2 linked regions of the Homo sapiens genome follow. The protein of the gene in region 1 interacts with the protein of each later gene in a pairwise test. Each region holds a gene or a part of one and is shown on either strand. Other genes may lie near its edges.

Evidence for each region.
Region 2: the proteins of MT1M (region 1) and RELB interact in a two-hybrid assay, tested with the Homo sapiens proteins (one large-scale study listed by BioGRID and IntAct).

The regions. Positions count from the first base shown.
Region 1 is NC_000016.10:56,631,394-56,634,481, forward strand, and holds MT1M (metallothionein-1M), read left to right. Parts: upstream 1-1,265; 5' UTR 1,266-1,338; coding exon 1,339-1,366; intron 1,367-1,946; coding exon 1,947-2,012; intron 2,013-2,357; coding exon 2,358-2,449; 3' UTR 2,450-2,588; downstream 2,589-3,088. UniProt on the Homo sapiens protein: Metallothioneins have a high content of cysteine residues that bind various heavy metals; these proteins are transcriptionally regulated by both heavy metals and glucocorticoids.
Region 2 is NC_000019.10:45,007,659-45,011,672, reverse strand, and holds part of RELB (transcription factor RelB), read right to left. Parts: intron 3,216-4,014; exon of another isoform or gene 3,163-3,215; intron 1,860-3,162; coding exon 1,851-1,859; intron 1-1,850.

The sequences.
Region 1 (3,088 bases):
TGCCCTTCCCCTGTTGTTTAGAAGATTTCCAGCAATAGAGAAGTGCTGACGACATATCTGGACCAAAGGAAGGCTTGATCATGGACACTTTCCTTTAAGAGGCTGGCTGGACTTAAACAAGGGCACAAATTTTTAGCTCTGTGACGACCAGCCAGTTACTTGGACATTTCCTTTGTAGTCCTGTGATGAGCAAAACGGGTTCATAACTAGTATTTCCCTTTAGGATTGCTGTGAGGATTCAAAGAATGAAAGAGATTAAAAAGGGACTGGTGTAGACTCAATGTCATGCAATAGTCAGGTATACTGAAGAGAAACAACTGCATGTCTTGTTTTTTAATTTTATTATTTTAGAGATGCTGACTTGCTATGTGGACTAGGCAGAACTCGAACTCCTGGGCTCAGGTGATCCTCCCGCCTCAGCCTCCTAAGTAGCTGGGACTACAGCTTCCCGCGACCTCACCCATCTTGCTTTTTAATTTAAAGCAGAGTCTGCATATCATCTGAAGTCATCTCTCTTTGGGGACATCCCACAGGTCCAGAACTGCCAGACGGTAGTGGGGTGGCCGGCTAGGCTGTGGGGAGCATGGAGATTTATCTGCAAAGGAGGACCTGGACAAATGTTCCCCCACATCCTCTCAGGCGAAGAGAATGGACGGGAGAGAGAGGCCGACCAGTGTTCCCCGTGTTGCTGTGTACGGAGGAGCCAGTCCGAGGGACCGCGGTGTGGACAGGGACAGGCAAGGCGGGGAAGGAGGAGAAACGAAAGCCACATTGGTGGCGGGTGCTCTGCACACGACTCGCTCCCTACCACACGCCCCCCGCTCCGCACACGACCGATCCGGGGACTGGAGCAGGAGGGCTGCACCGGGACTCCGGGACAGGCCCAGTTGAAAACGGCGGGGCGAGGGGGTGGGGTGGAGACGCCCGCGACGCCAAGGCTGGGGTCCCGGAAAGCGCGGGGAGGAGGGTGGAAGGCAAAGGCAACTTCGGGGAAACTGGGAAAGGCGGCCGGGACCTCGGGGACACTGCGTACCACCCGGCGCACAGCCCCTCCCGCGCAAACCCGAGCCAAAGGGGCGGTCGAGCGGCGCACTCGGAGCGGAGCTCAGGGGATGGTGCGCCCGGCACTTATGCTGGGCTCAGCCCAGCCCAGCCCAGGACCGCTGGCGGTGCGAACCCAGCCGGGCGGGTGCAAGCGCGGGGCAGGGCCTCTGCGCCCGGCCCCCTCCCCTGAGTAGAAAAGCAGCCGCAGGCTGTGGCGCTCCACCACGCCGTCCGGGTGGGCCTAGCAGTCGCTCCATTTATCGCTTGAGATCTCCAGCCTTACCGCGGCTCGAAATGGACCCCAACTGCTCCTGCACCACTGGTAAGAGAAGCCGACCCTGCGCCCTAGGAATCCCATTTCCCAGCCCCAGTACTGAGGGTCTCTGGGTTTGAGGAGGTCGCATTTAAGTTCTGAGCGGAAGGGAATTCCTTTACTTCCTTAGGTGCTTTCTTCCTGATCTCCCCTCTGAGAGCACTGCCCTCCCTCCTGGGCCTCTGGGTCAGAGTTAAGGATACTGAGGGTCAAGGCAGTCCCGCTCCACATCACCCAGTTGGTTAGGGTCCTGCTGGCTGGGCCCCAGTGTTCTCCTCCAGGCTCTGAGCAATCAGGGTGGACTGGGGGCTGGAGACATTTGAGTCTTCAGGGTTCAGCACAGAAGGTTCTGGCTGGCAATCTCAGTATTCCTGGGTTGGGTGTGCCCCTGGGACCTTCCTGGTAGGGTAAAACAGGAGGGTGCTTGCCCTTCCCAGCGTTAGTGGAGAGGACAGGGGCTTTCCCTGAGTGGGAAAGGAGCTCTGAGGGCTGGCCCTGCACAAAGGAGGGGGCACTGGAGACTCATTGACCCATTGCTGTACCTTCTTCATCTCACTCACTGCCCACTGCGTTTTTCTCTTCCTTGCAGGTGTCTCCTGCGCCTGCACCGGCTCCTGCACGTGCAAAGAGTGCAAATGCACCTCCTGCAAGAAGAGTGAGTGCGGGGCCATCTCCAGGAATCTGGGGCTGTGGCTGAGATTGGGAGGGAACCCAAGGCTGGCCCTGAGTGCATCCTTCTGGGGAACTGGGCTTTCTTTGCCCTCATTGCCCGTGTCATTCCCTCTCCAGGCTTTCTGCCCTAAATTCAGATGGGGCAGGACAGCATTTTTCTCTTGGGACACAAATCCCAACTGTAGCATCTATGGTTTCAGAACAGAGCTGTGCCAGACGTAAAAAGCTTCCTCTGGGTCTGGGTTCTGAGCTCCAGCCAGGCTTGCTATTGGGGCAGGGCGGTGCCCGGTCAAGTCTACTGCTACCTCTCTCTCCCCTTCTTCCCCAGGCTGCTGCTCCTGCTGCCCCGTGGGCTGTGCCAAGTGTGCCCACGGCTGTGTCTGCAAAGGGACGTTGGAGAACTGCAGCTGCTGTGCCTGATGTGGGAACAGCTCTTCTCCCAGATGTTAATAGAACAAGCTGCACAACCTGGATTTTTTTTCAATACGATACTGAGCCATTTGCTGCATTTCTTTTTATATTAAATATGTGAGTGACAATAAAACAATTTTGACTTGAATCTTACTCTGTTCTTCTTTGTGTGCCTTGGAAAAAATGGACTGGGTGGGGGTTAAACTGGGAGTTTAGAGACCAGTCTCTGGATGAAAATGTGAGTCACTAACAATGTGAACACCTTCAGGCCAGCCAGGTTACTCACTGAGTTCACCCTTCTGTAAAACGGTATTGCATTGTGCACACCATATGGGTGCGGGCCATACATGATCGCTTTTAGTGTGATTCCAAATGTGGTACAGAAACTTCATCCCTTATTTTTATTTTCTGATTTTCCTCCACAACTTGAGATCCACATTGGATTTTAGGCTTAAAAGTGGCTATAGTGCTGGAACCCAACTTCTTAGTTTCTTGAATCCTACACGGGTGCTATGATTTAGATATTTTGTCACTGCCAAATCTCATGTTGAAATGTGTCCTCCACTATTGCAGGTGGGGTCTAGTGGGAGCTTTTGGGGCCATGAGGACAGATCCCTAAAGAATGGCTTGGTGCCCTCCCATGGTGAA
Region 2 (4,014 bases), on another chromosome or scaffold:
GAGTTCGAGACCAGCCTGGCCAACATAGTGAAACCCCGTCTCTACAAAAATTAGCCCGAATGGTCTCCCACGTCTGTAATCCCAGCTACTCAGGAGGCTGAGGCAGGAGAACAGCTTGAACCCAGGAGGCGGACACTGCAGTAAGTCAAGATCGTGACACTGCACGCCAGCCTGGGCGACAGAGTGAGACTCCGTCTCTCAATAAATAATAGGCTGGGCGCGGTGGCTCATGCCTGTAATCCCAGCATTTCGGGAGGCCGAGGCGGGCGGATCATGAGGTCAGGAGATCGAGACCATCCTGGCTAACACAGTGAAACCCTGTCTCTACTAAAAATACAAAAAATTAGCCAGGCATGGTGGCACGTGCCTGTAGTCCCAGCAACTCAGGAGGCTGAGGCAGGAGAATCGCTTGAAACCGTCAGGCGGAGGTTGCAGTGAGCCGAGATTGCGTCACTGCACTCCATCCTGCGCAACAGAGCAAGACTCCATCTCAAAAAATAATAATAATAAATAAATAAATAGGCTGGGCATGGTGGCTCACGCCTGTAATCCCAGCACTTTGGGAGGCCGAGGCAGGCGGATCACCTGAGGTCAGGAGTTTGAGACCTGCCTGGCGAACATGGTGAAACCCCATCTCCACTAAAAATATAAAAATTGGGCATGGTGATGTGTGCCTGCAGTTCCAGCTACTCGGGAGGCAGAGGCAGGAGAATCACTTAAACCTGGGAGGTGGAGGTTGCAGTGAGCCAAGATCATGCCATTGCACTCCAGCCTGGGCAACAAGAGCGAAATTCCATCTCTAAATAAATAGATAAATAAATACAAAAATGAGCCAGGTATGTTGGTGCATGCCTGTACTCCCAGCTACTCGGGAGGCTGAGGCAGGAGAATTGCTTGAACCTGGGAGGTGGAGGTTGCAGTGAGCTGAGACAGCACCACTGCACTCCAGCCTGGGCGACAGAGCGAGACTCTGTCTCAAAAAATAACTTAAATAAATAAATAAGAAAGAACTTGCTCCTCCAACTGCCTGTTCCACACGGTCCCCCATTCAACCCATGCTGGCTGCTTCTCCTCCTGGTCTCAGCTCGTATGTTATCTCTTCAGAAAAGCCTAACCTAATGTGTCTTCTCCAGGCCATCTCTCCCTCGTCCTGTTTATTTCTTTCACAGCTCTCAGCCCAGGCTAACATTATCTTGCTCATCTGTTCATTTTCCTCTGTCTCCCACACCGGGCTATCAGCTCTGCGAGGGCAGGGACTTGGTTTTGTTCATGGCTAAATCCCCAGGGCCTAAAACAGTGTCTGTCTGTACTCACTAGGGGATTAATAACATTATTTTATTTTAATTGGTTTTCTTTTTGAGACACGGTCTTGCTCTGCCGCCCAGGCTGCAGTGCAGTGGTGCAATCATAGCTCACTGCAGCCTCGGCTTCCAAGGCAACCTCCCAGGCTCAGGTGATCCTCCCACTTCAGCCTCCTGAGCAGCTGGGACTACAGGTGCGCACCACCATGCCCGGCTAATTTTTAAAAATTTTGTGTAGAGATGGGGGTCTCACTATGTTACCCAGGCTAGTCCTGAACTCCTGGCCTCAAGCAGTCCTCCTGCCTCTGCCTCCCAAAGTGCCAGGATTACAGGTGTGAGTCACACAGCCCCCGGCGTGCTGAGTGTTTTCCAAGTGTCAAGCACTGCTAAGTACCTTAGGAGCATGACTTCGTTCAAATCCCTCCACAGTCCTGGAAGTCACACAGTGACACCTCTCCCCCACCCCCACTGAACAAGGAAGGCCAAGACCCCCTTCTGTAGGCACTTGGGTCCCTCAGCCTCCCCGCAAACCTGCCCTGTGATACTCACCCAATTCATCTGTGGAAGGAAGAGAAAGAGAAAGAGAAAGGTAAGGTCCAGAAAGTGGTCACAACTTTTCATCTTTTAAGACAGATTCCCCAACCCTGTCCCTCCTGTGACCCTTCCGTCTTCCTCCGTCCTGGGAAACCCTGGGCTCTGACTTGCTGGGGCACTAAACCCCAAACCTCATCTTCTCCTCTGGGCTACCATCCTTTCAACCTCTAATGTTGGGGTCCCAGCATCAGGGTATCCTCCAACTAAGCCAAATGCCTCCCGAAAAACATTTAGACCAGGGATTATGAAGTCTTTTTGGGAACCCATTAGAAAGGGGTCTTAGCACCAGGAAAAAGTGGATGCCCAAATTTCCAAACAAATTGGGGTGTGTTCCCTCCCTGAAGTCCACCCCAGGGTCCTGGAGGTCACTGGCTGGTGTTTAAAGATACAAAGAGGTGGCCAGGCCTGGTGGCTCACGCCTGTAATCCCAGCACTTTGGGAGGCTGAGGTGGGCAGATCACTTGAGGTCAGGAGTTCGAGACCAGCCTGGCCAACATGGCGAAACCCCGTCTCTACTAAAAATACAAAAATTAGCTGGGTATCGTGGTGGGCACCTGTAATCCCAGCTACTCGGGAGGCTGAGGCAGGAGAATCGCTTGAACTCAGGAGGCAGAGGTTGCAGTGAGCTGAGATTGCGTCACTGCACTCCAGCCTGGACAACAGAGCGAGACTGTCTCAAAAACAAACAACAACAACAACAAAAAGATGCAAAGAGGCTGATCTGAACCCAGGCAGCCTCTTGCTCTGTACCCCAGCCCTGTCCTCCCACAGTGACCACCCAAAATCCCAGATTCACCCCTGCTTCCTAAGTGAGGAGGTACAGTAATGCTGGGTCCTCAGGGAAGCCCCTTTTCACCTCCCCAGGAAAGCTCAGCCCTTCACAGAATCGTGGAGGAATCGAAACCGACCTCCCGTCATTCCATAGACAGGACAAGGGGAAGCCCAGAGGCCGCCAGTGAGCCTTAGAATCACACAGCAACGGAAGGCAGCTGCAGCCAGGTGTCCCACCCAGGGCTGCCTGCGCTGGTCTCTGGCTGGGGATTTATAGACGCGAACCTGTTCCGCTGCTAGATCTGTCCTCCTCTGTTCTCAGGGAGTGGCTCCTGGCAGCCAGACCTTTGCCCCTTGAAAGGTAGTTTTCCTGCACCCCTTATCTCATGGGATCTGTGAAGCCAGTAGGGTGCCAAGGTCCCCCCAATTTGGCAGATGGGGATACTGAGGCTGGCAGAGAGGAAGGGACACGCTCTAGGTCAGTGGCAGGGCCAACCTCAAGTCACTTGAACTGGGAAAATCCTTCTTAGGCATCTGTGCTGGATGAACCTGGGGACCCAAAGACAGAGTTAGACTTTGGACCCTCCAGAGGCTCCCGGGCTGTAGGGGGAGACTGAGTCCTGGGCGGCTGTGGCTGGAGCTCTGGGTTCACTGCCTCTGTTCAAATCCTGGCTCTGCAACTTGCTAGTTGTGGGGCCATAAGCCTATTACTTCACCTTTTTGTGCCTTGGCTTCTTCATCTGTAAAATGGGCACAATAATAATGCCTACCTTGTTGGGCTAAGATACTTTTATTTAATATTTTATTTTATTTTATTTTATTTATTTTTATTTTTTTGAGACGGAGTCTTGCTCTGTCACCCAGGCTAGGGTGCAGTGGCACAATCTTGGCTCACTGCAACCTCTGCCTCCTGGGTTCAAGTGATTCTCCTGTCTCAGCCTCCCGAGTAGCTGAGATTACAGGTGCACACCACCACACCCGGCTTTTTTTTTTTTTTTTTTTTTTTGTATTTTTAGCAGAGACGGGGTTTTACTATGTTAGTCAGGCTAGTCTCGATCTCCTGACCTCATGATCCGCGCACCTCGGCCTCCTAAAGTGCTGGGATTACAGGCGTGAGCCACCACGCCCAGCCTATTTTCTATTTTTTGAGATGGAGTCTTGCTCTGTCACCCAGGCTGGAGTACAGTGTGGTGCATTCTTGGCTCACTGCAACCTCTGCCTCCCGGGTTCTAGCGATTCTCCTGCCTCAGCCTCCTGAGTAGCTGGGATTACAGTCTCGTACCACCATGCCCGGCTAATTTTTGTACTTTTAGTAGAGACGGGGTTTCACCATGTTGGCCAGGCTGGT